Linked DNA regions of Homo sapiens: all the other regions are linked to region 4. The links come from fine-mapping of genetic effects on gene expression. A gene starts in region 4. Each other region holds a variant in brackets. All regions are shown on one strand. Distances are between the middles of the regions.

Region 1 (5,107 bases), 260 kb after region 4:
TGACTTTAAACTATACTATAAGGCTATAGTCACCAAAACAGCATGGTATTGGCATAAAAATAGGCACATAGACCAGCAGAACAGAATAGAGAACCTAGAAAGCCAAGTACTTACAGCCAACTGATCTTCAACACAGCAAACAAAAACATAAAGTGGGGAAAGGACATCCTATTCAACAAATGGTGCTGGGATAATTAGTAAGCTACATGTAAAACAATGAAACTGGATTCTCATCTCTTACCTTATAAAAAAATCAACTCAAGATGGATCAAAGACTTGAATATACAACCTGAAACCATAAAAATTCTGAAAGATAACATCAGAAAAACTCTTCTAGACATTGTCTTAGTCTGAGACATCGACTTAGTCTAAGACATCATGACTAAGAACCCAAATGCAAATGCAACAAAAACAAAGATAAATAGATGGGACTTAATTAAACTAAAAAGCTTCTGCACAGCAAAAGAAATAATCAGCAGAGTAAACAGACAACCCTGACTAGGCATGGTGGCTCATGCCTGTAATCCCAGCGCTTTGGGAGGCCGAGGCAGGAATTTGAGGCTGAGGTCAGGAATTTGAGACTGAGGTCAGGAATTTGAGAGCAGCCTGGCCAACATGGTGAAACCCCATCTCCATTAAAAATATAAAAATTAGCCAGGCGTGATGGCAGGCGCCTGTAGTCCCAGCTACTTGGGAGGGTGAGGCAGGAGAATCACTTGAATGCAGGAGGTGGAGGTTGCAGTGAGCTGAGATCGCACCACTGCACTCCAGTCTGGGTGGCAGAGCGAGACTCTGTCTCAACAAACAAACAAACAGATAGACAATCCACAGTGTGGGAGAAGATCTTTGCAAACTATGCATCTTACAAAGGACTAATGTCCAGAATCTACAAGGAACTCAAATTAGCAAGAAAAAAACAATCCCATTAAAAAGTGGGCTAAGGACATGAATAGACAGTTCTCAAAAGAAGATATATAAACGGCCAACAAACATGAAAAAATGCTCAACATCACTAATTATTGGTGAAATGCAAATCAAAACCACAATATGATACCAGCAACAATAACCATAATTAAAAAATAAAAAAAAAATAGATGTTGGCATGAATGTGGTGAAAAGGGAACACTTTTACACTGCTGGTGGGAATGTAAACTAGTACAACTACTATGGAAAACAGTATGGAGATTCCTTAAAGAACTAAAATTAGATCTACCATTTGATCCAGCAATCCCATTACTGGGTATCTACCCAGAGGAAAATAAGTCATTATATGAAAAAGACACTTGCACATGCTTGTTTATAGCAGCACAATTCGCAACTGCAAAAATATGGAACCAGCCCAAATGCCCATCAATCAATGACTGAATAAAAAGAGTCATGTATCTATACCATAGAATTCTACTCAGCCATAAAAGGAAATGAAATAATGGCATTTGCAGCAACCTGGATACAATTGAAGACCATTATTTTAAATTAAGTAGGTCAGGAAAGGAAAACCAAACATCGTATGTTCTCACTTAGAAATGGGAGCTAAGTTATAAGGATGCAAAGGCATAAGAATGATACAATGGACTTTAGGGACTTGGGGGGAAGGGTGGGAGGGGAGCGAGGGATAAAAGACTACACACTGGGTACAGTGTACACTGCTTAGGTGATGTGTGCGCCAAAACCTCAGAAATCACCACTAAAGAACTTACCATGTAACCAAACATTATCCGTTCTCCAATAACAGTTTTAGGTTTACTGAAAAATTGCCAAGATAGTAGAGTGAGTTCACATATATCCTGTAGCCAGTTTCCTCTATTATTAACATTAGCATTGTTGGGGCTCAGAACATAATGTCCAGAAATAGGGTAGTTTGAAAACTGAGAAGATAGCAGAAGCAGGAGGGTCTCTTTGACCTTCTCTTGTGCCTTTCTCCCCTAAAGCAAGCCATAAAAACTAGAATTGCCTTCACCCTTTTTCTCCTCTGAAGCAGACCATAAAAACTTGGAGGGTCACTCTCTGGCCTTTTCCCTCCTTTTCCCCCAGAAGGCTGTCATGTAACAGCTGTCCTGCCCTGTATCCCAGGGAAGAAATATCAAACAGGGATGCCAAGAAGAAACTGAACAAACGAGCCTAATTCCTCCCAGTTTGTTACCATTCCATCATACCTTTTGTCTTCCAATCATACTTCAGACTATCATAAAAATACACAGTTTTTCTGGGTCTTCTCGTTTCTGAAAGCTCTCATGTCACATAAAACTTATACTAAATAATTTTGTTATGCTTTTCTCTTGTTAATCTGTCTTTTATTATAGAGGTCTCAGCCATAAACCTTGCAATGGGTGAGGAAATCTGTTCTTCTCTACATCTTGGTATATTTGTTATAATTCAGGAACCAATATTGATACATTATTGTGAATAAAAGTCCATACTTTATTCAGATTTCTTCAGGTTTTACCTAATGTCTTTTTCTGTTTCAGAACCCCATCTAGGATATCAGATTATATTTAGTCATCATGTTTCTTTCTTTCTTT[CT/C]TTTTTTTTTTTTTTTTTTTGAGACAGAGTCTCACACTGTTGTCCAGGCTGGAGTGCAGTGTCACGATCTCAGCTCACTGCTGCAACCTCCACCTCCCGGGTTCAAGTGATTCTCCTGCCTCAGCCTCCCAAGTAGCTGGGGTTACAGGTGCCTGCCACCACACCCGGCTAATTTTTGTATTTTTAGTAGAGATAGGGTTTCACCATGTTGACCAGGCTGGTCTCGAACTCATGAGCTCAGGTGATCTGCGTACCTTGGCCTCCCAAAGTGCTGGGATTATAAGCATGTGCCACCGTGCCTGGCCTTAGTCATTATGTTTCTTTGGGCTACTCTTGGCTATGGCAATTTCTCAGACTTTTTTTGTTTTTAATGACCTTGATAGTTTTGAAGACTACTCATCAGATATTTTGTAGAATGTTCTTCAACTGGAATTTGTCTAATGTTTTTCTTATTATTAGACTGGGTTTATGGGTTAAGGGGACGAGAATGTTGGGACTCAGAAACCAATACTCCAAAATATGGCATTCTGACATGCTGAATTGAAGAAAAAGCCTCAAGGTCTCTCTGACTTTCCCGGCAATTCCCCTCAGCCTCCTGGCTCTCAATCTTATTTTTCTCTCTGTAAACATGGGATGATGTTCTCTGAAGTTCCCTCATCTACTTAAAGTCCAGACCCACCAAAGAAGAAAATAGTTATTTCTGGTACCTTCTCTGAGTTTTTATTAACTGAACTCAAATCACAGGAAGAAAGACTGAAGTCTGTCAACACACCTGGATGGACAGACTTTTGTCACAAACCATTGTTTTCTCAGCAGATCCAATAGACTTTGTCCCAGGCCATTGTATGTTCTTCGGTCCCATTGAATTCCCCTAAATACCATTTACTACTCTCCTAAAATCATCCACTCTTCCCCATCTCCCTTTCCCCTAAAAAGAAGGGCATATAACCATCTGTAGTTCATTGCATAGTTGGGAAACGCTCTGTGGTTCTTCCCTGCACACGTTAATAAATTTGCACACCATTTCCCCTATTAATCTTGCTCGGCACAGTGGTTTACTTCTGTAATCCCAGAATTTTGAGAACTGGTGGCTGGAGGATCATTGAGCTCAGCAGTTTGAGACCACTTTGGGTAAGATAGTGAGACCTCATCTCTACAAAATATATATATTTTAAAAATTAGCCAGGTATGGTGGTGTTGCCTGTGGTCCCCAGCTACTCAGGAGGCCGAGGTAGGAGCATGGCTTCAGCCTGGAAAGCTGAGGCTGCAGTAAGCCATGATGACACCACTGTACTCTAGCCTAGGTGACAGAGGGAAATCCTGTCTCAGGAAAAGAAAAAAAAATCTGCCCTTTGTCAGTTGATTTTTCAGTGAACCTTCAGAGGGTGAAGAGGAAGTTTTCCCTTCACTCCTACAAAAACTACAGCGGTGGAGTACCATTTTCATCACACATATCAAGGGTACATACTACCAGCATAACCTCTCACTGTTGATGTTTACCTTGATGACCTACCTGAGGTCATATTTACCAGGTTTCTTACATTTTATTACTTTTTTTTTCCGTCCAGAGGTCATATATATACATATATATACACACATATGTATATATGTATATGTACACACACATATATGTGTATATATGTATTATGCATGAATTCATAGGGAAGTGGTTCCAGCAACTCAGGCTCCTTCCCATTGGTTCTCTCACATTGTCTTCTCTGGGTGGAGCTGACTGGTGCTTCAGTTGAATCCAGGTAACTTTCTCTTTGGCTTCCTTCTTTTTCTGATCATTTTCCTTCATGCGTTTCAGGAAATTCTCTTAGCTTGTAGAGTGCTTAAAGTGCTTAATACCCACGTTAATTCTCTTGGCAGGAATCTTGCCCTTAACTTGTTTGTTTACAACAATGCCAACAGCATGCTGGGGAACATTGTAGGCTCTTCCAGTTTAGCCATGGTGACACTTGGGGGGCATTCCTATTTGAACAGTGCCCACTCCCTTGATGTCTACAATATCACCTTTCTTACAGATTTGTTCCCAGAACCAAGCCGGGTCCGGCTGTGTTTTCTCGAGGCCCGCCAATAATGAGAAGCAGACAAACTAGGAAAGAAGGGAATTTATTGCTGTAACCAGATACAGGGAGAAGGCCCGAGATAATTCCACCAGACCAATTCAAAGTGTTACAATTTTCTTAGTGCTTATGTAGGTTGAGGTTATGAGCCCAAGACCAGTCTAATATTCACCTAAGTCTATTGGTAGCTAATTTTGTTTCAATTAGAAGGTCGGAGGCAAAAAAATGCTTGCTAAGTCTGATTAAACTGTGGGGGCCCCAGGACCTTCAAGGCCTGTCTACTGTGATACTGGAGTGATTATTTCTATCTTATCTCCTTTACGGCTTGGCCTGGCGAGCTGCCTTAGACTCTCCAATGAATCTATTCAAACAGCTGCCTCTGTTACCTTGACTCGTCTCAGATTTCGTCGACTCCTGGCACAAGGAATGTATGACTGTCTCTATTATTTTGGTTTGCTCCAGGTTAGGGAGAAGCCCATGCAAGGCTCCTACTGACCATATGTTTCATTTCTAGCTTT
Region 2 (5,107 bases), 130 kb after region 4:
CTTTCCCTCCATCTCTTTTCCTCTTAATCTGCTTCCAAATACACAAACCGGAATATAACTTTTTGTGACATAGTCATTCATAGCCTTCCATGTAGAAAACTCCTATAGTATTTATGAAAAATGCTGTGAGAATTACAAAAATCTTTTGCACTTACAGGTTTCTTTGCTCCACACCATCTAGCAAGGTGTCTACCAAATTTTCATAGTTCCTTTAAAAAAAAGGTGAGGTATTATTTTACTATAATACTAAAATGAACATCAAAAATATAATAGAAATTCAAATTCTAGCCAATTTCACCCTCCTTCCCCACTTACTTCCCACCACCTGACTGTAAACGGCCTGATGAGAAGCAAGCCAGAATGAAAGTAGACAGGTGAACAGAGATGCTGGGAAAAGCTCATGAAAGGCTAGGAAGAGTGAACTCAACTTTTCCTGAATGGACATGCACAAGTAACTCTGTAAGTAGTAATCAATTAATTGGGAGTGGCACACACACACACACACACACACACACACACACACACACGATACACCAGGTTTCTGAAATATATTAGGTAGGCTATAAGAGTTTATTATTTATAGACATTTTAGAAAACAACAAAGAGGTATATTCATATACTAATTATAAGGCAAAGACAAAATCAAGTTAGGAAGACTCTTGCTTGAGTGTTATCAGTGAAGCATTTAAGTGCTTTGGTATCAAGAATCCAAAAACAGTTTATTAAAATCCTGATACCAAATTTGACCAATAAGTTATTACTATTATAAGAACTATTAAATGATACATCTGCTAAACTTGAATTTAGGAATTAATGACTGATGTGTACCAGTTATGTAGTTTCTGAAATATTACTACCTTAAAAAAACAAAAAAAGAAAGATAATTCACTAGAAAAAAAAAGATAGGACAGTGAAATAACTTTTTGTTTTGTTTATTTGAGACAGGGTCTTGCTCTGTTACCAGGCTGAACTGCAGGGGCACGATCTCTGCTCACTGTAACCTCTGCCTCCCAGGTTCAAGCGATCCTCCCACCTTAGCCTCCCGAGTAGCTGGGACTGTAGGCGCGTGCCACCATGCCAGGCTAAATTTTTGTTTTTTTTGTATAGACAGGGTTTCACCATGTTGCCCAGGCTGGTCTTGAACTCCTTAGCTCAAGTGATCTTCCCACCTCAGCCTCCCAAAGTGCTGGGATAACAGGCATAAGCCACCGTGCTCGGCCTTATTTTTAAGATGGTGTTTTATACCTCCATAGCTTAAAAAGGAAAAACAGGAATCTGTGTAGTAATTACTTCTCAACTTTTTTGTATTTTTTTCAGAAGTCAATGTGTAAACATCATTAAGCAGTTATGTTATACATCTATATTTTAGAGATGTTAAAAACTTACTATCGGCCAGGCGCAGTGGCTCATGCCTGTAATCCCAGCACTTTGGGAGCCCGAGGTGGGCAGATCACTTGAGGCCAGGAGTTCGAGACCCGCCTGGCCAATGTGGTAAAACCCTGTCTCTACTAAAAATACAAAAATTAGCTGGGTGTGGTGGTGCATGCCTGTAATCTCAGCTACTCGGGAGGCTGACGCATGAGAAGAGCTTAAACCCAGGAGGTGAAGGTTGCAGTGAGCCATGATCGTCTCACTGTACTCCAGCCTGGGCAACAGAGCAAGACTCTGTCTCAAAAAAAAGCCAAAACTTACTATCTATAATGTCATCTATTGAAGTACACCATTCATCAATTACCTTAGGGCATCGGCATTCTTTTCCTGTTGGCGTTTAATTCCTTCCTTAATTTTTTCTGGGCTAAGCAATATCTGGTTGATAGAGGGGTTTTTTGACTGTTGAAGTAATTCCGCTATTTCAACACATGACTTTGGAATCTTGTTAAAAAGAAAAAAGCAGGAAAAAAAATGAAGTTCTGATGCATACTACCTGAACGAACCTTGAAAATGTCATGCTAAGTGAAAGAGGCCAGACACAAAAGTCCACATATTTTACGATTCCATTTATATGAAATATCTAATAATGGGCAAATTTATTGACAGAGAAAGTGGTTTCCAGGGGTTTGGGGTATGGAAGAATGGGAAGCGACTGCTATTAGGTACTTGTTTTCTTTTGGGGTGATGAAAACATTGTGGAGGCCAGACATGGTGGCTCATCTCTGTAATCCTAGCACTTTGGGAGGTCAAGGTGAGGGGACTGCTTGAGGCCATGAGTTTGAGACCAGCCCGGGGAACACAGCAAGACCCCTGTCTCTCTCT[C/CA]AAAAAAAAAAAAACAACTTAAATTAGCTGGGTGTAGTGGTGCACACCTATAGTCCTAGTTACTAGGAAGGCTGAGGCAGGGGATGATTATGCCACTGCACTCTAGCCTTGGGGGACAGAATGAGACAGAATGAGAATGAGAAACAAAGAAAAAGGAAAATGTTCTGGAATTTGAGTAGTTACACAGCCCTGTGAATATTCTACTGTGCATATAACATGTCCATATTAAAAGGGTGATATTTATGATATGTGAATTACATCTCAATTAAAATTTTTCTTCTAAAAAATAAAGTATAATCTAATGACAGTCGCAAATAGCAACCCTATGTTTGATTTAAAAGGAATACATTTAGAACAGTGGTTTTTAAACCAGGGGAGAGATGTCAACCATAGTCACGCCAGCCAAGAGGGTGATTCTGCTGTGCTCACCCTTCTTTTACTCACCCCCATGTTCTGAGGGAGTATAAATACAGATTTGCAAGTTCCTAGAAAATCTGCTATAACTCTCAACCTAAGCACCACTGAAAGTTATATTCTTTAGTCTTTCGAGTCAAATCATTCAATTTTAGTTTTCTTCACTATAAATTACGAACCCAGTAGTCGATCTTTTGCGACTTTGGCTAGCATGGTAAACCTCATAAAATATAATTAACTCTTTGAAAAATGAAGCTGTGGGCACACACAAAATAAGGGTAAATATAACAAATCAATAACCCTTTGTGGAGCCCTGGCTGTCTCCCTACCATGCTCCAACTTGCTACTTCACCCTGTTATGTACAATAATGATCAATGAAAGTACAAAAAGCAAACAGGTAACAAACGCTTTTTTAAAAAAACACTGGACTCAAATGCCAAGAATATTATTACTGGAAAAAGGGCAAGAAAAATAAAGGGCATTTTAACAAGACAGGATTTACACTAAAACTTGAATGAAAGAATGATATTGCTTACTGTGAAGTCCAAGCCAATTGTTTCATACTGCCTATGAATCTTTTCTGCAAGATCATCAAACAATCTCACTATTGATGGCTTTTCCAGGGACATTGCTTGGCTAAGCCCTGAAGAAACAATCGCTGGCCACGTCTGTACAATACAGTCCCAATCATGAAGGTTTGCCAAGCACACACCACTGTGATTTCCAAGGAGACAGTACAAGGCACCCTGCAGAAAAAAAAATATATATATGTTTACATGGGAAATAAGAGGCATCATGTAGTTGTAGCCAATGCACCTATGTATTGGTTTTAAATGAGTATTGATTACTTAAATGCTTAATATTGGTTAGTAAAATATGTTCACACATTTAACATGTTACTTTTTAGAAATCTGAACTTGACATTTAGGTGATATCCATTAATATTTTCTCTAAGTCATTTAATAAAGAGTTTGGGACAGGTGAGGTGGCTCACGCCTGTAATTCTTGCATTTTGGGAGGCCAAATAAGGCAGACTGGTTGAGCTCAGGAGTTTGAGAGCCTGGGCAACATGGTGAAACCTCTTCTCTATAAAAAATACAAAAATTAGCTGGGCATGGTGGCACACACCTGTGGTCCCAGCTCCTCAGGAGGCTGAGGTGGGAGGATCACTTAAGCCCAAGAGGTTGAGGCTACAATGAGCCATGCCTGTGCCACTGTACTCCAGCTTAGGTGACACAGCAGGACCCTGTCTCCAAAAAGAAAAAAAGAAATTGTTCAAAGAATGGCTACTAATAAGGTAATAAAGAAATGGAAGGATGTTTCTAAGAACATATATTCCATTCTGATTTTCTTCAACTGTATCATAAAAACCACAACATGTGTCACTCTTAAAATTTTAGAGTCTGAAGTTTGGTGTTTGAAATAATTTATTAAATATTAGTTAACACCTGGTTGCTGAGTAATTTACAAAGTACATAAAAACTAAAGTATACTGCATATTTATTACTCATAAAAGTCCAATTAACCACAATGATTCTGATGACAGCAGGTATCCTTTGATGACAGCAGGTATCCTTTCTAAAGTGCTTTTTCATAAAAAGTTTTTACTATCAAAACTTTTGATTTCCAATTTACCTCACCTGATTCCAATCTAGCTTATTACTGACTTTGTATTCCACTCCTCTACAGGTTCTCTATAAGGTCACTCATAACCTCGATTTTGTTGATCTAATAGATATTTTTCTGTTTTGATTGTACTTGACCTCTCTAATTTTGTCCATTTAAACTGCTCTCATTAAGGTCAACAACAGAATAGTCAATGAGTCAAACCTACAACACTCTTGAATTATACATCTGCACCAGGGGTCAGCAAACATTTTCCATAAACGGCCAGAAAGCAAACAGCAAAGCCATTTGCTCTCTGTCTCAACTACTCTTCTCTGCCACTGTAGAGTGAAAGTAGCCATACATAATATATAAATGAATGAACATGGCTGTGTTTCAAGAAGTTTTAAAAAAGCAAGCTTTTACTTTTACAAAAGCAAGCAACTGAGCCTGAGCTATAGTTTATTGACACCTCTGTCTTACAAGCTTCATGGAAGATGTTTAGGGCTCGTCTTCATTATCTCCAAAAAACAATGACTCTACTCACTGAGTCTTCCTTCTAGAAAGACCTCTCCCTGCCTTCTGTGATTCTTCCCGATTTCTTGATACCTTTCTGACCTCTCCAGGGTCACTCAGCTCTTCTATTTGGCTTCTAAAGGAGTTTCTCAACATATGCCCCTTGGTCCTCTTCTTATTCTCCTCCTAGGCTTTCTTATCCATGCCCATAGATTTCAATTATAATCAACATACATGGAAATGGTATCTTCGGACTCAGATGTCTAACTGCCCACTTGATGGTGCTCTTAGGTCATTGGAACCACTTCAAATTAAACT
Region 3 (5,107 bases), 400 kb after region 4:
TGATGATTTAGGAGGAGTCATTAATGGAATATTCAGGATGAATTCAAATGACAGACTGGAGGCTGAAACACTTGTTGGTAGGCACCGGCACTGGGTACATAGGGAAGAGAGAAGACTGCAGGAAATACAGTAAGGAAGAGAACTGGCAAAGGGACAATATAAACTGAAAATATAAACAGATTAATGAGAAGTTAAGAAAAATTAATTCATATGAATGGAAACCAGGGGTGTTTGGGACCACATTTGTCCTTTTGAGGTGCCTCTTGTGGCAAACAGCGTTTTTTTGTTTTGTTATGTTTTTGTTTTTAGTTCTGGGATACATGTGCAGAACGTGCAGGTTTCTTAGATAGGTATACATGTGCCATGGTGGTTTGCTGCACCTATCAACTTATCATCTAGTTTTTAAGCCCCACAGCCATTAGGTATTTGTCCTAATGCTCTCCCTCCTCTTGCCCCTCACCCCCGTGACAGGCCTGGGTGTGTGATGTTCCCCTCCCTGTGTCATGTGTTCTCATTGTTCAGCTCCCGCTTATGAGTGAGAACTTGGGATGTTTAGTTTTCTGTTCCTGTGTTAGTTTGCTGAGAATGATGGCTTCCAGCTTCATCCATGTCCCTGCAAAGGACATGAACTCATTCCTTTTTATGGCTGTATAGTATTCAATGGTGTATATGTGCTATATTTTTTTTTATCCAGTCTCTTATTGATGGGCATTTGGGTTGGTTCCATGTCTTTGCTATTGCAAGTAGTGAAACAGCCTTATTTTCTAACTAACCATCTTGGAGACACTGTATAGACTAGTTGATTTCAGTGGCATTACCTTGCTAACGATTTGAAGTTGATATATTATTTCACTCACATTTACCTTTTTGGTTTTGTATCTCCTTTTAGGGTCCTCTGCCTTATTTCCTGCAATCATGAATATGTTTTGAATACTGCTAGTCACAAATTCCAAAGCTGGCCATTCATTGTTAGTTAGTACTTTCAGAACAATTGTCTTAAAATTTTAGATCTAGAAGGGACCTGAGAGGTCATCTGGTCTGTCTGTCTGTCTGTCTCTCTCTTTCTCTGTGTGTGTGTCTGTCTCTCTCTGTCTCTCTCTCTTTCACTCTCTCTCTCTCTCTCTCTCACACACACACACACACACACACACACACACACACACATTAGAGACAACCAAAGTCTTCTAAGACTTGAGGCAAAGGAAAGTACACTTGAAGGCAATACTATATGATGCCCCATCCATGTTAAGATGGTTCACAGAGCTGATCTGACCTGATCATTGGTGCCTTAGACTGGAGAGGAGACTGGGTGCCAGGAGAGCAAACCAGTCTTCCTGTTAGTTTCTTCCCTACCCCTGCCCCAAGGGAAAGTCAGTGCATCTTGGACTCTGGATGAAGGAATCTTCTGGCGGAAATCTAAGGAGTTTATATATATCTATTTTAAATCAATGATTACCGGCCATTTTACAGAGGGTTATCTCTCTAAAAGTCCTAGAAACCCATGTAAGCATATTGAATCAGAGCTATTCAGCCTGACTTGTTGCAGAAAACATACTGCCTTAATCCACCAAAACACACACATGTGACACTGCATTCTAAAAGTTTGAAGTTTTACATTCAGTTTAAACAACCATCCAGCAATATCAGACCCTGGTCCATTGGCTTAGTGGTGCCTCATTCTTAATGCTCTTATCTAGGTGCAGCCTCAATTACTGCCTGGTTAGTCAGTCAAGGAAACCAAAGTGTGTGCGCTCCACTTGACCATGGTGTTGTCAGAGAGCACCCAGAGGGCCATGTAGTCTTTGATACAGCATGAGGTGATGCATTTGATTATTACCTGTGTCCTCTGGGCAAGCATTTATTCATTCCACAAATATTATAAAGTATCTGCTATATGTCAGGCAGAGTGTTGGGAACTGTGGATACAAAGATGAGTAATACAGTCTCTGCCCTCAAGGACTTGAGGAAAGATGGATGGGTAGACACAGAAGAATGTGTATACAGAATGAAGTAAGACATGGAGGATTTGATCCAGAAAACTCTTGAGACTGAATAAAGGATTTTAACTTTTGTACAAACTGAGATCCTCCTGTTTGCCCTGTCAATGCCAAGGCGACCTACATTCAGATACTGTGACTTTAAAAAAATTGCTCATTATCATGTCCACATCTCCAGTTTGGCTGACACATCTGTCCTTGTGAAATATGCCAAGCACAGGATAAGATAATCTCTGAATTTGGACCCAGTCAAGTGCTTGAGTTCGATGCCAAGATGGTTAGGCTACCTTGCTACTCACCTTGAAGATTTCTCATAATGATGGAAACTTACTTCAAGATTCTATAGCAATTTGGCTTTTGTATCCCCACCTTCCAAGCCCCCCACCTCCATTTCTTAGTCTCACATTTGCCACCCCAGTTCGCTGGCAATGCTCATCTCACAAGGCTAACAGATGCAGCTCACAAGCCAGGAGGGCAGCAGGCAGGCCCTCTTGATAAAGGACTCTTAAAATTTATTTTAATTTTTCTTTTTTTGTGTGAGGTATTTTCCAGTGAAAACCAGAAAACCTGCTGGACAAATTCTGAAAAAGCTGTAACTTTTTTTTTTTTTTAATGCTTCAGGCAATTCCATTTGATCTGGCCATCACCAAAGCTACTGGTAATCCATAGGACCCTTCCTCATGACGGCATCTATCGACCTGTGACCTTTTGCCTCCAGCTCTTACTGAACAAAAAAAGCACCCAGTGTATCACCACTCATTTCCTCAGCAGTCTGCTATATTTAGTTTGTCAAAGTGTTTTTGGATCTTGATTCAGTTATCTAACATGTTCATTGTTTCTCCTAGCTCATCAACTGAGAAATTTGATAAGGATCATTTCTATATCATTGTCCAAATAATTGAGGACAGCTTTGAACAGCACAGGGCCCAGTAGCACAGTCTAGACAACACTCTCCTCTGA[T/A]ACATTTATAATCATATCTGAAAAGATATAATGGTGGCAATCTTTTGGACACTGTATTACAAAAAATCTCAAATCCAGAGAAAAGACAGAGAATAGCGTAATACCCACATTTAGATTTCACAGTTGTAGTATTTTTCTATATTTGTATCACAAATGTTATATAGATACAGATTTTTTTTTCTGATTTGGATAAATTTGCTGTAAGAGACATTTGGGGGAGGAACTACTGAGGCATTTGAATATGGCCTGGGTATGAAAGAACGTTAAGGAATTAGTATTATATTTGTTATGTGTGATATCATCATGGTTATGTAGGAAAGTGTCTTTATTTTTTATAGCTGTATACTGAAGTATTTGGGTGAAATGTTATGATATCCATAATTTTATTTAAATACTTTGGGCTTTTATAAACAATAATTCAGAGGGAAGAGAGTTGTGTAGGAGATATCTAAAGAGGTTCAGAGAGAATGGCTAATTGTTTATCAGTCTGTGATGGAATTGTTTTGAGTTTGGAATATTTTGATAAGTTCTAAATAATAAGCCAGTTTTAAAAAATTACCACATAATATGAAAGACAGAAGTCTTCATCCTGTTCTTGGGCCCAGTGCCACCCCAGAGCCTCATTCCATCCCATTTCTCCATCCCAATTATTACTGTCATTTTTTATAAAAATTGCTTCTATATTTTGATGTACATTTCTCAAAACTGTTTTGTCAAAATATTCACTTTTTCCATTGTCTTCAGACAAAACCACTGTGTCAAATCTGCTGTGTCCAGGCCAGGCACAGTGGCTCACACCTGTAATCCCAGCACTTTGGTAGGTTGAGGTGAGCAGATCACTTGAGGTCAGGAGTTCAAGACCAGCCTGGCCAACATGGTGAAACCACGTCTCTACTAAAAAAATAAAAAAATCACCCAGGCGTGGTGGTACATGCCTGTAATCCCAGCTACTTGGGAGGCTGAGGGAGGAGAATCACTGAAACCGGGAAGCAGAGGTTGCAGTGAGCAGAGATCACGACATTGCACTCCAGCCTGGGCCACAGAAGCAGACTCCGTCTCAAAACCAAACAAAATAAAATAGAATAGAATAAAATAAAATAATAAAATAATCTGCTACATCCAAATGTCCAATAAAGGAAAAAAGCCACATGAACCGTGAGTTAGAAACCATAAAAAGTAATTGGATATTACCAAGAGAAGTGTTACTAATATAATTTCAGATACATTACGGGGATAATATTTAGACAGGTGTAGTAGAGCCATTATTGTTATATATCAGCTGAGTTATTTTAAAATAGATATAGTAATCATTGAATTAAAGAAACCCAATGAATTTTAAAAAGAGAAAGAGCAGTGAAAATGAACATACAGTATCTCTTGGGAAAATGTAAAATGGATGATAAAACAGGAAGACTGTAGAGGGTGTATTATAGATAACACATTAATTGTAATTGTATTAGAAATAGAATTTTAAGCATTGCCATTTTCTGGATAGCTGAGGATGACAAAGTCAAAATTTTTAGTGCATGCTTTCACTTAAATGGCCTATAAAATAGACAACTGAGGTGAAACACTGGTAAGATGAGCCAAAGCTTTATTTTTGGCGTCATTTTCCTTTAAACCTGTTGGGATTTGTAAAGCTTGGTTTTCCTGTCCAAAGAACCAATCAGGAGTGTTACAGAAGAATTTTTCTACCTAAATAATTTTGAACGCTATTCTTTCTAAAGTATGTTAGACTTATCGCTTACCTTTTTCCCCACAGAATGGAAGCTATTTAGCAGAGGTTGGCCTTTTTCTGATGACTCCAGTAGATAGTTTCAGCAGTGAATCTTCCAGGGCTAATTAGCATGTGTGGTGCCATTGGAGTTGCATGCTTGCGTTCTTGGGTCCTGGTGTGTTGTTCCTCTTTGTTAGGTCTGTCTGATTTTGATCTGTTTCTTTGATGCTTGGAGCACACCCATGAGAGCCTCCCCTATCCCCCTTTGACTTCAGTTTCAAATTTATGGACATTACTGAAATAAATACACACATGCTCACCTTCGTTTGGATCCTACATCAAAAAATGTGATAAACAATCCTCAGCCTCTAGAATTTTTTTTTTTAAGAGAGAATAGGTCTTGCTATGTTGGCCATGATGGCCTCATGCAACC
Region 4 (5,107 bases):
GTCAATAAAAAGAGGCCAGACAGAGGCACTTCCGTATAAGATGTCCAACTAGAGTATCATACTAATTGAATCCAAGGCAGGCAATCTTACTATCCTTAATAAATAAATTCAGGCAGTTATTTTATGACTATAGAAAGGGAAACAAATACTACTGTTAATAAGTTATGTATTATACTTTTTTATGTTTTATTAATCCAGCTTGTAGGCAAAGCCTCCATACCTTGAATTTACTTTACCTGCATTAATTAACATTTGCAAACATTCTACAGAGTTGTGATAAGCTGCTTCATGAATTGGCATCCATCCCCTGTTATCAGCAACATCGACACTTCGGCCCTTTTTGAGCAGTTTCCTTAAGACTTTAACATTGCCTTCCCTGGCAGCAAGTCCAACTGTAGAGCACGTGTCCGCGTAAGCCTCTGTAAAATCCATTTGTTTGACCAGTCTACAAAACAAGGTAGAAGGATAATACTATAGTCAATAAAACAACACTTCACTCCTAGAGGTCAGCAAATCACGGTGGGCCTGTCTAGTATCTCTCACATGACTGACGAAGAAGGGCCCACAATACAGAAAGTGACTGCCATGCCACAGTCTCTGCTGGTGCCTAAAGCAGGAAGTTTCTCTGTTTGGCAGATTGGAATTCCTTGGAAGGTTCCCACTAAAAACATGAAGGGACTTTTAAGTGTTCTATCTTTCCTCCTCTGGAAATGTTTGAGGAGTAGGCTTCTGCTCCTGTTCATACCCCACCACAACGCATTCTTTGGTGCTCCATTGATAAGAGCACCCTCTTTGGTGCTCCATTGATAAGAGCACCTCTGCTTAATCCCCAGTGTACACTACATTATGCAGAGATGGCCATTCAACTACCAGCAATGCTCAGCCTCAATATACAGCCCTCTATAGGAAACAACTAAACCCAAAGAGGCCAGAAAAGCAGTGAAAGATAGGTGTCATTCTAGTCTTCCTGCACCTGCTTGTCCTTTCCAGAAGAGGTTAAACACTCAGATTCTCTATGCTTGACCAAATAGACCCACTGACTGAGCATACTGAAACCAACAGAGAACACCATGAAGAGATGAGCCCGGTTTTCCTACATAGCCCAGAAAGTTCTTAACAGAGTTCTTGCCCACATCATCACCTCCCTCCAATGCTCACTTCAAGTTCCCCTCCAGTCAGAGTCCAGTATAGCTCTCATGTGACTCTCTCGAAGACACAATTTCTTGTTAGTGACTCTATGAAGCAGTTTGGATATGGAATACTTATTTGATTACATAACTATTGTTAATTTTCTCAGATGTGATAATGGCATCACAGTTATTAGGAGAATGCCCTTATTCTTTTTTTTTAGGGAACTTGTTCTAGGATGAATGTCCTTATTCTTATGAGACACATGTAGAGTATGTGGCAGTAAAATGTCATAACACAAGCAACTTCAAATGTTCTCCATTTAAAAGTATAAATAAAGTAAAAAGGAAGTACAGCAACTGTGCAAAATGGTAATTACTGGATCTAGATGAAAGGTATTGGTCATTACACTCTTTTTATCTGAGTTTTCTGTGTATTCAAAATTTTTCAAAAAAGAAGGGTTAGCAACCATATCAGGCAATTTGAAACCACAACTTAGAGAAAATAGGAAAAGACTTGCTTTTTTTTTTGTTTGTTTGTCTGGTAGCAGCTTCCTGCTGATTTCTTTATAAGAAAACAAATAATACCCCTTGAATCTGAGTGTTTTAGCATTCAAGATCATGGTATAAAAATCTTCAAGAAAGAACAATCACTTGGTAAGGTTTCTGTTTTCACACACAGAGACACAGCCATGATAGTCCAAGCGAATTTCCTAAACAATATTTTGCAGCAAGAGCTCTAATGAGCAGATCTTCAAAAAATTTTAGGATCCTTGACCCCTTGGAGAAACTCATGAAAGCTGTAGTTTCCCCCTAGAAAAGTGTACACCCCAAATTTTGTATACAAATTCAGGTTCCCCAGCTCGTTTCCAAAGCCTTTACAGGGGCCCCAAGTTAAGAACATTTGCCTGCTCTTTTGTGAACAAGCCAATGATAATACTAAAGATGAATAAATTTGTGTAAAATTTAAATATATAAACAATTCCCATTGAAATGACAGCTACTCTTTCACAAGCGTAAACTTCTATTGTAAACTTTCTGCTTTTATTTGAAAGGCAAAAGACTTTTTTTTCAGGACATAAAATCAAATATGAATTACATTCCTCTGGCTGCTGTTATATAGGCAAAAATCTAATTTCCAAAGCAGAACAAAACGTGTTTCTAGGTGCTTTGCTACCTGCGGTGCTGGTACACCGCCTCCGTATCTGGACACGAGTGACGACTCCTGCTCTTTTCTCCTTCCTCGGCCCCGTTAGAAATAAGCCCAGTTCCAATTTCAGAGCCAAATAGCTCCAAAAAGCATTGTGGGTATTGTAGTTTTCTGCACACGGGCACTAAAGGTAGGTTAGGGTGATTTACGGATGCTGCAAAAGAATCCATTGCTTACTACACCGAAGGTCAATGCCTCTTGACACCCTAATCAAGGAAATAAAATAAAGCTGACTGAGATCCGCTCGGAAAATCTTTCTGGATCTAAACTCCCAGTGCGCTTTGCGCCCCAAGTGGCCATCGCGCCTGCGCCCCGCGCGGCCGGTTACTCGCTTACCGGAGGCTTCAGTCCCCGGCGGCGCGGCGACAGCTAGGGTTCACGGCCACTGGGGCAGAGGAGCCGCGAGAAGATGTGGGTTTTTGGTTACGGGTCCCTGATCTGGAAGGTGGATTTCCCCTATCAGGACAAGCTGGTCGGATACATCACCAACTACAGCAGGCGCTTCTGGCAGGGCAGCACGGACCACCGCGGGGTCCCCGGCAAGGTGAGGCGCCGGTCAGCTCCCCACACTTACTGCCCCCTGACCCCTGCTCCCCAACTCCACACACAGCACCCACACCCTAGAGAACCACACCTTAGCGCTTCATGGGGCCAAAGCACATGGCTTGGGGTAACATTTCTGTAGATTTTCCCTGCCACCTGCCCGCCATCTCTAACCCAGCCCGGGCACTCCTTCCGAAGCTGCTTAAGATGCCGGTGGTTAGTCTCTAGAGACGGCGAGAAGCGCGGGCACAGGCGCACGAGCTCGCACCAGGCTGAGTGCGGAGATGGGGACTCCATCTCTCTGCAACCTCTGCCAAAAGAAAAAAAGTCCCATTGGCGGGAAGATGAATGCTCATGTCACCACAGAGTTGAAATAGTAAATCAAGTTGCAAATTCAGCTTTTTAGCAATTAAATTTGTTGGCATTTCTGCATTCTAGCCGACTTTCATGAGCTTGCGATTAAACGTGCATGTTACTTCTAGGATTTCTTTACATCTTTCAAAAGTTTTATTTTCTGACACACAGGATTGCAGAATGAGTTTCCAAAATTTTCGCTGGTTATTAAGGAACTCACTTTGGTTTTCAGTACTAGTGAAGTTAAATGAAGTTCTGGTTATATGAATAACATAGTACCAAACTCATTACTATATCCAGCATTATTTTAATGTTACTTTCTTGATGGTTCTCATAATTATAATATGAAATGTAAGTTCATTGATTCACTTTTCAGTCAGTCCTACAAAGACATTAATCTCAATATATGTATAGAGAATTAGCAGCAGCTCACTGCTTATGCAAATCAGCTTTGTACTGGCTACAAAACAACTAATCCATAAAGAAAACTAAGATTGAGGTAACTAATAATTTGGAAATTGGTCAATGGAAAGTGGAAAAGATCAAGGCGCTAAAGTAGTTTGCACCTGCTCATAAGAGAGACATGGGATTAAAATCACGAAAAGAACCTGAATTAGAAACCATTCTATCTCAACTAGAGTTGGTCAGTTAAGAACTTGGCTTTTAAGTAGACTATACTGGCCTATTGGGATGTTGGACACAGTGACCTGAAAAGGGGCAATGGCTTAGGATAAATGCACATTTACAGATCAACAGAAATGTCATGGCCAAAGTATCTCCAAGAATGTTCTAGAACAATATTCAAGACATTAAAGAACTAAGCTAAATTAAATGGCTTCTGAGTTGTCAGTTTTGGCTGGGCCCGGTAGCTCACGCCTCTGATCCCAACACTTCGGAAGTTTGAGCCAGGAGGACTGCTTGAGGCCAGGAGTTTGAGAGTTGTCAGTTTTGATATGAATATTTAAAATTGCCATTCCGAAAAGAAAACCTTTAGCCCAGGCTCCAATTATAATGACCAAGTATTAAATATTTATGTATGTGGCTATAACAACATACTTTACTAGTCTTGACGAAAATGTACAGTGTGTTACAAAACACATTGAGATATGTATGCTGTCAGAATAGACTGATGATTAGAAATTGCCTAGTCAACACAACAGTCCGTGATTCTTTAAAAGGAGAAAGGGGCTGGCCAGGCGTGGTGGTTCCCGCCTATAATCCCAGCACTTTAGGAGGCCTAGGCGGGTGGATCACCTGAGGTCGGGAGTTCAACACCAGCCTGACCAACATGGAGAAACCCCCTGTCTACTAAAAATACAAAATTAGCTGGGCGTGGTGGCGCACGCCAGTAGAGTCCCAGCTACTCTGGAGGCTGAGGCAGGAGAATCGCTTGGGAGGCAGACGTTGCGGTGAGCTGAGATTGCGCCACTGCACTCCAGCCTGAGCAACAAGAGTGAAATTCCGTCTCAAAAAAAAAGAGCTAAAAAAAGGTGTCTTTCTGATCACCTAAGACTCAGAATTCTAACTGCACTTAATACCATACATCTTAGCCCATATCTTAGCTCTATTTATTTCACATGTTAGTTTGCATTCTAGAATGACAATATAAGCTACTGGAACCAAGAATCAAGATTTCATCTTCTCCACAGCACACAGTAGCTATGCATAAATAACTTCTAATTCACTTTGAAATTGAAAATAATATGGCATTATCTACTTGACCCTCACCAATATATATATATCCTCATTGTAGCATCATCTTAAAAAGAAAACAAGTCAGAAATCTAAATGTCCAAGAACACAGGAACGTTTATAGTTCATCAATGACACAATATTATGCAACTATTAAAATGTATGAGAAGACTAACAGGAA
Region 5 (5,107 bases), 29 kb before region 4:
ACAATGGTTTTGGGTCCACTGAATATCCATATGGGGAAAAAAATCTTCACCCCTGTCCCACACAATACCCAATTTCAGATGGATTGCGAATTAAATTCCAGATTGGATTTAGAAACAACAAACCTTCTAAAAAAAAAAAAAAAAGAAAGGAAAAATCTACAAACTGATCTTGGAATAGAAAAATAATTTTTAATCTTCATATTAAAAGCAATAAACATAAAGGTAAATAGTGATAAATTGGACCACGTTAAAATTAAGAACTCCTTAAATCAATAAAAAGATAAATTATTTTTAAAACATGAGAAAATTTGTGCAGGAACTTCACAAAGGAGGATATGCAAATAGCTAATAAAATACATGGAAAAGTACTCACCTTCTTGTCATTCCATTAGGGAAATGCAAATGAAAACCTCAGTGAGCACCCACAACACCACCCACCAGAATATTTAAAATGAAACACAGAGTAAGTATCCGGCAGGGATGTGGTAAAAGTGGAACTATCATATCCAGGTGGTGGTGACATAAATTAATAACCTTAAAATTGGAGGCCAGGTGCGGTGGCTCACGCCTGTAATCCCAGCACTTTGGGAGGCCGAGGCAGGCGGATCGCGAGGTCAGGAAATCGAGACCATCCTGGCTAACACGGTGAAACCCTGTCTCTACTAAAAATACAAAAATATTAGCCAGGCATGTTGGCGGGCGCCTGTAGTCCCAACTACTTGGGAGGCCGAGGCAGGAGAATGGTGTGAACCCAGGAGGCGGAGCTTGCAGTGAGCCGAAATCGCGCCACTACACTCCAGCCTGGGCGACAGAGTGAGATTCCATCTCAGAAAAAAAAAAAAAAAATTGAGTAGGGCACAGTGGCTCATACCTGTAACCCCAGCACTTTGGGAGACCAAGGTGAGCAGATCACCTGAGGTCAGGAATTCCTGACCAACATGTTTAAACCCAGTCTCTATTAAAATACAAAATTAGCCAGGTGTGGTGGTGCATGCCTGTAGTCCCAAGTACACTGAGGCACAAGAATCACTTCAACCCAGGAAGCGGAGGTTGCAGTGAGCCGAGATCATGCAACAGCACTCCAGCCTAGGCAACAGAGCAAGACTCTGTCTCAAAAAAGAAAAAAATATGTCTAAAAGAAGATATTGATTTCTCTTTTTAAGATTCCCTCGCCAAATTGAATAAGCTTCAGAATTATACTTTGGGATATGACAGTATAACTGGTACTAAACTAGCCATCCATCCAAAACAATCATAAGAGTGGACAAAATATATAAGGTAACTTACTCGGGTATTAATCAACAGGCAGACAACTGTGATTCCCGAGAGAAGTGAAACACAAGAGATGAGCCCATGATCACCCCAGCTCTGTACCTGGGGACATTTCCCCGTTACGGTACAGTGAGCTGAAGTCCAAGTAGAGCAACAGTAAGGTTGGGAAAGGTGTACTCCAACCAGAGGAAAGAGGCTCAAGTGCAGTAGTAAACTGAGGAGACAGAGATTAGAATTTAAGTGGTTGAAATCTGCAGGTAAGGCCCTAGAGAAGAGTGAATTGTGCAGACAGGAGGCCTCTGTGTGGAAGTTGCCCAAGGGTCCTTGGTTCAAGCGTAGGTTGCACATGTACAAGGTAAGGCAAATAAAAACTGCTTAAGGGTCAAGAATGGAACAGAAATAATTAGAAGTCAAACACTACTGAGGGGCCATGGAACTCCTAAGACTTCTGGCTAAGTCAGAGTGATGAGACCATACTATTCCAAAAGAATGGAGATCAATCCTGGGTACTTGTGAGAGGAAGGGGAAGGATGTCTCCAAGCTTTTGTGTATGTGAAATTGTCCAGGACGTTTTAAAAAAGGAAAAAAAAAAAAAAAAAAAAGACTGCCACAAATTCTGAAGGGAATTTCAAAACGAAAATTTCGAGAACACTTTGAATATCTAAAATATTCCTAATGTGCATATAGTATACCCTGAATTTTTTAAAACACATCAGAATAAAAATCAAACTGAACACTGTCCTATTTACTCAATAATACTAAAGTGTATATTAATTGAAAAATGATTTAAAACCTAAAGAAACAGGGAGAGAGAAGAGACAAGAAATAGATAAATCCACAGCAGAATAACAACACAGTAATTAGGACAGAACTAAGCTTCATATACTGTGTACCTCTTATGGTATTTATTACAGCCTATCTTGAATTCTGGTTATTATAATATCCTCAATTAAATTGTAAGCCCATGATATCAGGAACTAAGCCTGATAGTGTAGAGGCCTGATAATCACCTAATCAATGGAGGATAATGAGAAAAATTCAGTTGTGACTTTTACCATCCTATTGATAAGCAAAACTAGTTGGCTAAGCTGGTGTTTCTTTGCTCCTTCGCCTTTTTATGTGAGACCCATCTAGGACCACATGTTAGGGCAAAGGAGATAAATATTTCAAAAATAAAACAGGACTACTGTTCAGTTAAGGATGTATGAAGAACTGCACTCATTCTGTTGCTCTCTAGAACTGTTCTCCAATATAGAAGACAGAAGCTTCATTTGGCTGTTTAAATTTTAATTTTAATTAATTAAAATGGAATAAAATTAAAATTTGA[G/C]TTCTTCAATCAAACCAGACAAACTTCAAGTGTTCAAGAGCCCCATGTGGCTAGTGACCATCATAAGGGACAATGTAGATATAGGACAATTCCAAGTTCTATTGGGTAGGACTGGTCTAGAGATTAGAATTGAATTGAATTGAAATTTAACCTAGAATACTAGGTATACCTGTCTTCAAGATACCCATTTAGCATTGGAAACAGAGAGCCAGGCGATCAGCTGCAGGTCTTGGAGTAAGTGTCAAAGACAGAAAGATAAGGTGTAATTCTAGAAGCTAGAAAAGTACTGTGGGTTCCTAGAAAGAAAAAGAAAGCAGAATCATAGTATCTGGTATTAAAAAATGGTATCCAATAGGGACCAGAGACCAAGGAAAAAGATTAAGGATGAAATAAAAGACCGCATTTCAGAAGGCAGAGCTCCAAGTGTCTGGAGTACACAGAGATATGGGAGAAAGACTTTCCCCTCTTCAATCCAAACAGGTAAGACTCCAAACAGGTAGAAGAGAAAAGCCAGAACCTCTGAGGGTAGGAACACTGCTTTTCCCACAATGGATCATATAACATAGTATGGAAGAAATCTCTAATTGTAAATGCTTAAGAAAGCAAAAATGGCATGAGAACATATCCTGCAATAATTTCTAGGGAGACATTTTCTGGTTTTGAAAAAACACCTTTTTCCATTTCCTAAATTAGAGGAAAAATGAAGCAATCTGGAAAAACATATCTTAGGTAACAAAATATTTTTGAAAACAGGAAATTGAGAAACTAGAAGCAGCCTTTGACCCACACAAAACTTTTGACCAAAATCAACTCAGTTGTGGCATGCAACATATTGAGTACAGTTACAAGCAAAGCCCCATGTGAAGATTTCATGAAAGCAAGAACTCAAAACGGGACTCTCATCTGGGAGAAATATGGTAGACCTATACATACATGTAAGTACTAAATCTAACTAGAAATAGTAAATAATGATCATTGTTTAATATAGCATTCATTAAAGAAAAAGCTTTTTTAAGGGACATTTTTTAAATGTAATTATCTTAGTGAATGCTCTTTTAGAAAAATGCTTAATGTGACTATGAGTTCTAGGGAATTACCATAACAATTCTGTACAAATTACAATTATAAACACAATTTTGTACCAAATGAAAATTACAGTGAGTTTTATCTCTATTAGCTAGAAAATATACTGTTTCATTTTTTTGTTTGTTTTGTTTTGTTCTTAAGATAGGGTCTGGCTCTGTTACCCACGATGGAGGACAGTGGCACATTCACGGCTCACTGCAGCCTCAACTTCCTGGGCTCAAGCGATGCTCCCACCTCAACCTCATGAGTAGCTGGGATTACAGGCATGCACCACCCACACAGCTCATTTTCCATTTTTTGTAGAGACAAGGTCTTGCTATGTTGCCTAGGCTGGTCTTGAACTCATGGGCTCAAGTGATCCTCCCACTTCAGCCTCCCAAAATGTTGAGATTATAGGCATAAGCCACCACACCCAGCCTAGTCTTTCATTTTGAGGCTCAGATTTTGACAATAATTCTAAAAAATGACATGGTCAGTAAGTCTGTAACGAAAAGTTTAACCACAGGCTGTCCATCTCCTCCAGTTATAGCAGCAGGCTGGCTGGCTATGCAGAAATCATCTATATATTCAATTTTACATTTGAATTATATATGAATTTTTAATGGTATCTCTACTTTTTTGAGTTCTACATGTACTCTGTTCTCCATTATGCATTTCATTTTTCTATACAATTGAACAGTAAAATTATTTTTTCATTGTATAGCTAGTTTATGTAAAACTTTTTTCCCCCACCTCTTTCATGAACCAAAAAAGGAACATTTGTAAGAACATTTATCTCCTGCAGTATTTCTCTGGTCCTGTGTTCATACTGACATCTGGTGGCACTAGAAAAGAAACTCCATTATTGCTATGACAAAGGAATTTTTTTTTCCAGTGTTGTCCATTTATTCTATGTATCCTCAAGTTTATGTTTTTCCAGCACTTTACTTATACCCAAGGCAGCAGAACAATTATTAAAATCTTTAGTCTGAAATGTAGTATTTTATTGATATACAGAATTTTTTAAAAATTATACTAAAAAGTTATATTTCTGTTTTATAAATTTCTTCATGTCTGCCCAGTGGCTAACAATCTTAAAGATGCATACTGATGGGAAAAACCATGATCTTCTGGGCAAAACTCATTATGTTAGGGATATAACAAAAACGTTGTGGCGAATATCCCAATCCAATCATCCACGTTATCACTGACATTTCTCATGGTTTCTAACAGACAGGGAGAAGTCTAATGGCCAATTAGACATCAGAGACCATATCCAGAAAAATACATCCTTCAATCAAATGAAAGTATTAAAAGACAAAAAGCTAAAATTCCACTATCCTATTATATATTGTTTATTTTTCCGTATGTCTCCCCAGCAGCAGAGTCAAGAAACATTTGATTTAGATAACACATCCCTAAACTTACACCTTCTTCTAGGGC

Alleles and levels. Positions count from the first base shown, and alleles are read on the strand shown. Sizes are in standard deviations (SD) of each study's normalised expression. Not every link is listed here.
As copies of CA replace C in region 2, the expression in monocytes of the gene that starts at base 2,664 in region 4 goes up (large effect, 1.7 SD a copy in BLUEPRINT).

The links. PIP is the estimated chance that this variant, and not a neighbour inherited with it, causes the effect.
Region 1: its variant is the best candidate, but not a certain one, in a credible set for the expression of CHAC2 in whole blood (INTERVAL, PIP 0.61).
Region 2: its variant is the best candidate, but not a certain one, in a credible set for the expression of CHAC2 in monocytes (BLUEPRINT, PIP 0.66).
Region 3: its variant is the best candidate, but not a certain one, in a credible set for the expression of CHAC2 in T cells (TOPMed, PIP 0.68).
Region 5: its variant is the best candidate, but not a certain one, in a credible set for the expression of CHAC2 in whole blood (TOPMed, PIP 0.50).

The regions. Positions count from the first base shown.
Region 1 is chr2:54,025,318-54,030,424 of GRCh38, forward strand. It overlaps a transcript of ACYP2 not described here and the pseudogene RPL21P30. Among named protein-coding and RNA genes, the nearest start is that of PSME4, 57 kb to the left of the region's middle. The variant CT/C (reference allele first, on the strand shown) is at 2,520.
Region 2 is chr2:53,898,146-53,903,252 of GRCh38, forward strand. It overlaps PSME4 (proteasome activator subunit 4), which reads right to left. Exons shown (of 47, transcript NM_014614.3): 28 at 3,205-3,414; 29 at 1,736-1,872; 30 at 156-209. Among named protein-coding and RNA genes, the nearest start is that of GPR75-ASB3, 41 kb to the left of the region's middle. The variant C/CA (reference allele first, on the strand shown) is at 2,254.
Region 3 is chr2:54,164,410-54,169,516 of GRCh38, forward strand. All of the region lies in intron 3 of ACYP2 (acylphosphatase 2), which reads left to right. It also overlaps the pseudogene RNU7-172P. Among named protein-coding and RNA genes, the nearest start is that of ACYP2, 51 kb to the left of the region's middle. The variant T/A (reference allele first, on the strand shown) is at 2,958.
Region 4 is chr2:53,765,141-53,770,247 of GRCh38, forward strand. CHAC2 (ChaC glutathione specific gamma-glutamylcyclotransferase 2) reads left to right here and starts at 2,664. Exons shown (of 3, transcript NM_001008708.4): 1 at 2,664-2,881. The coding sequence starts at 2,747. It overlaps ASB3 (ankyrin repeat and SOCS box containing 3), which reads right to left. Exons shown (of 10, transcript NM_016115.5): 2 at 237-445. The coding sequence starts at 432. GPR75-ASB3 (GPR75-ASB3 readthrough) reads right to left here. Exons shown (of 10, transcript NM_001164165.2): 2 at 237-445. RefSeq lists enhancers at 2,636-2,985, 3,006-3,195.
Region 5 is chr2:53,735,871-53,740,977 of GRCh38, forward strand. All of the region lies in intron 3 of ASB3 (ankyrin repeat and SOCS box containing 3), which reads right to left. All of the region lies in intron 3 of GPR75-ASB3 (GPR75-ASB3 readthrough), which reads right to left. Among named protein-coding and RNA genes, the nearest start is that of CHAC2, 29 kb to the right of the region's middle. The variant G/C (reference allele first, on the strand shown) is at 2,600.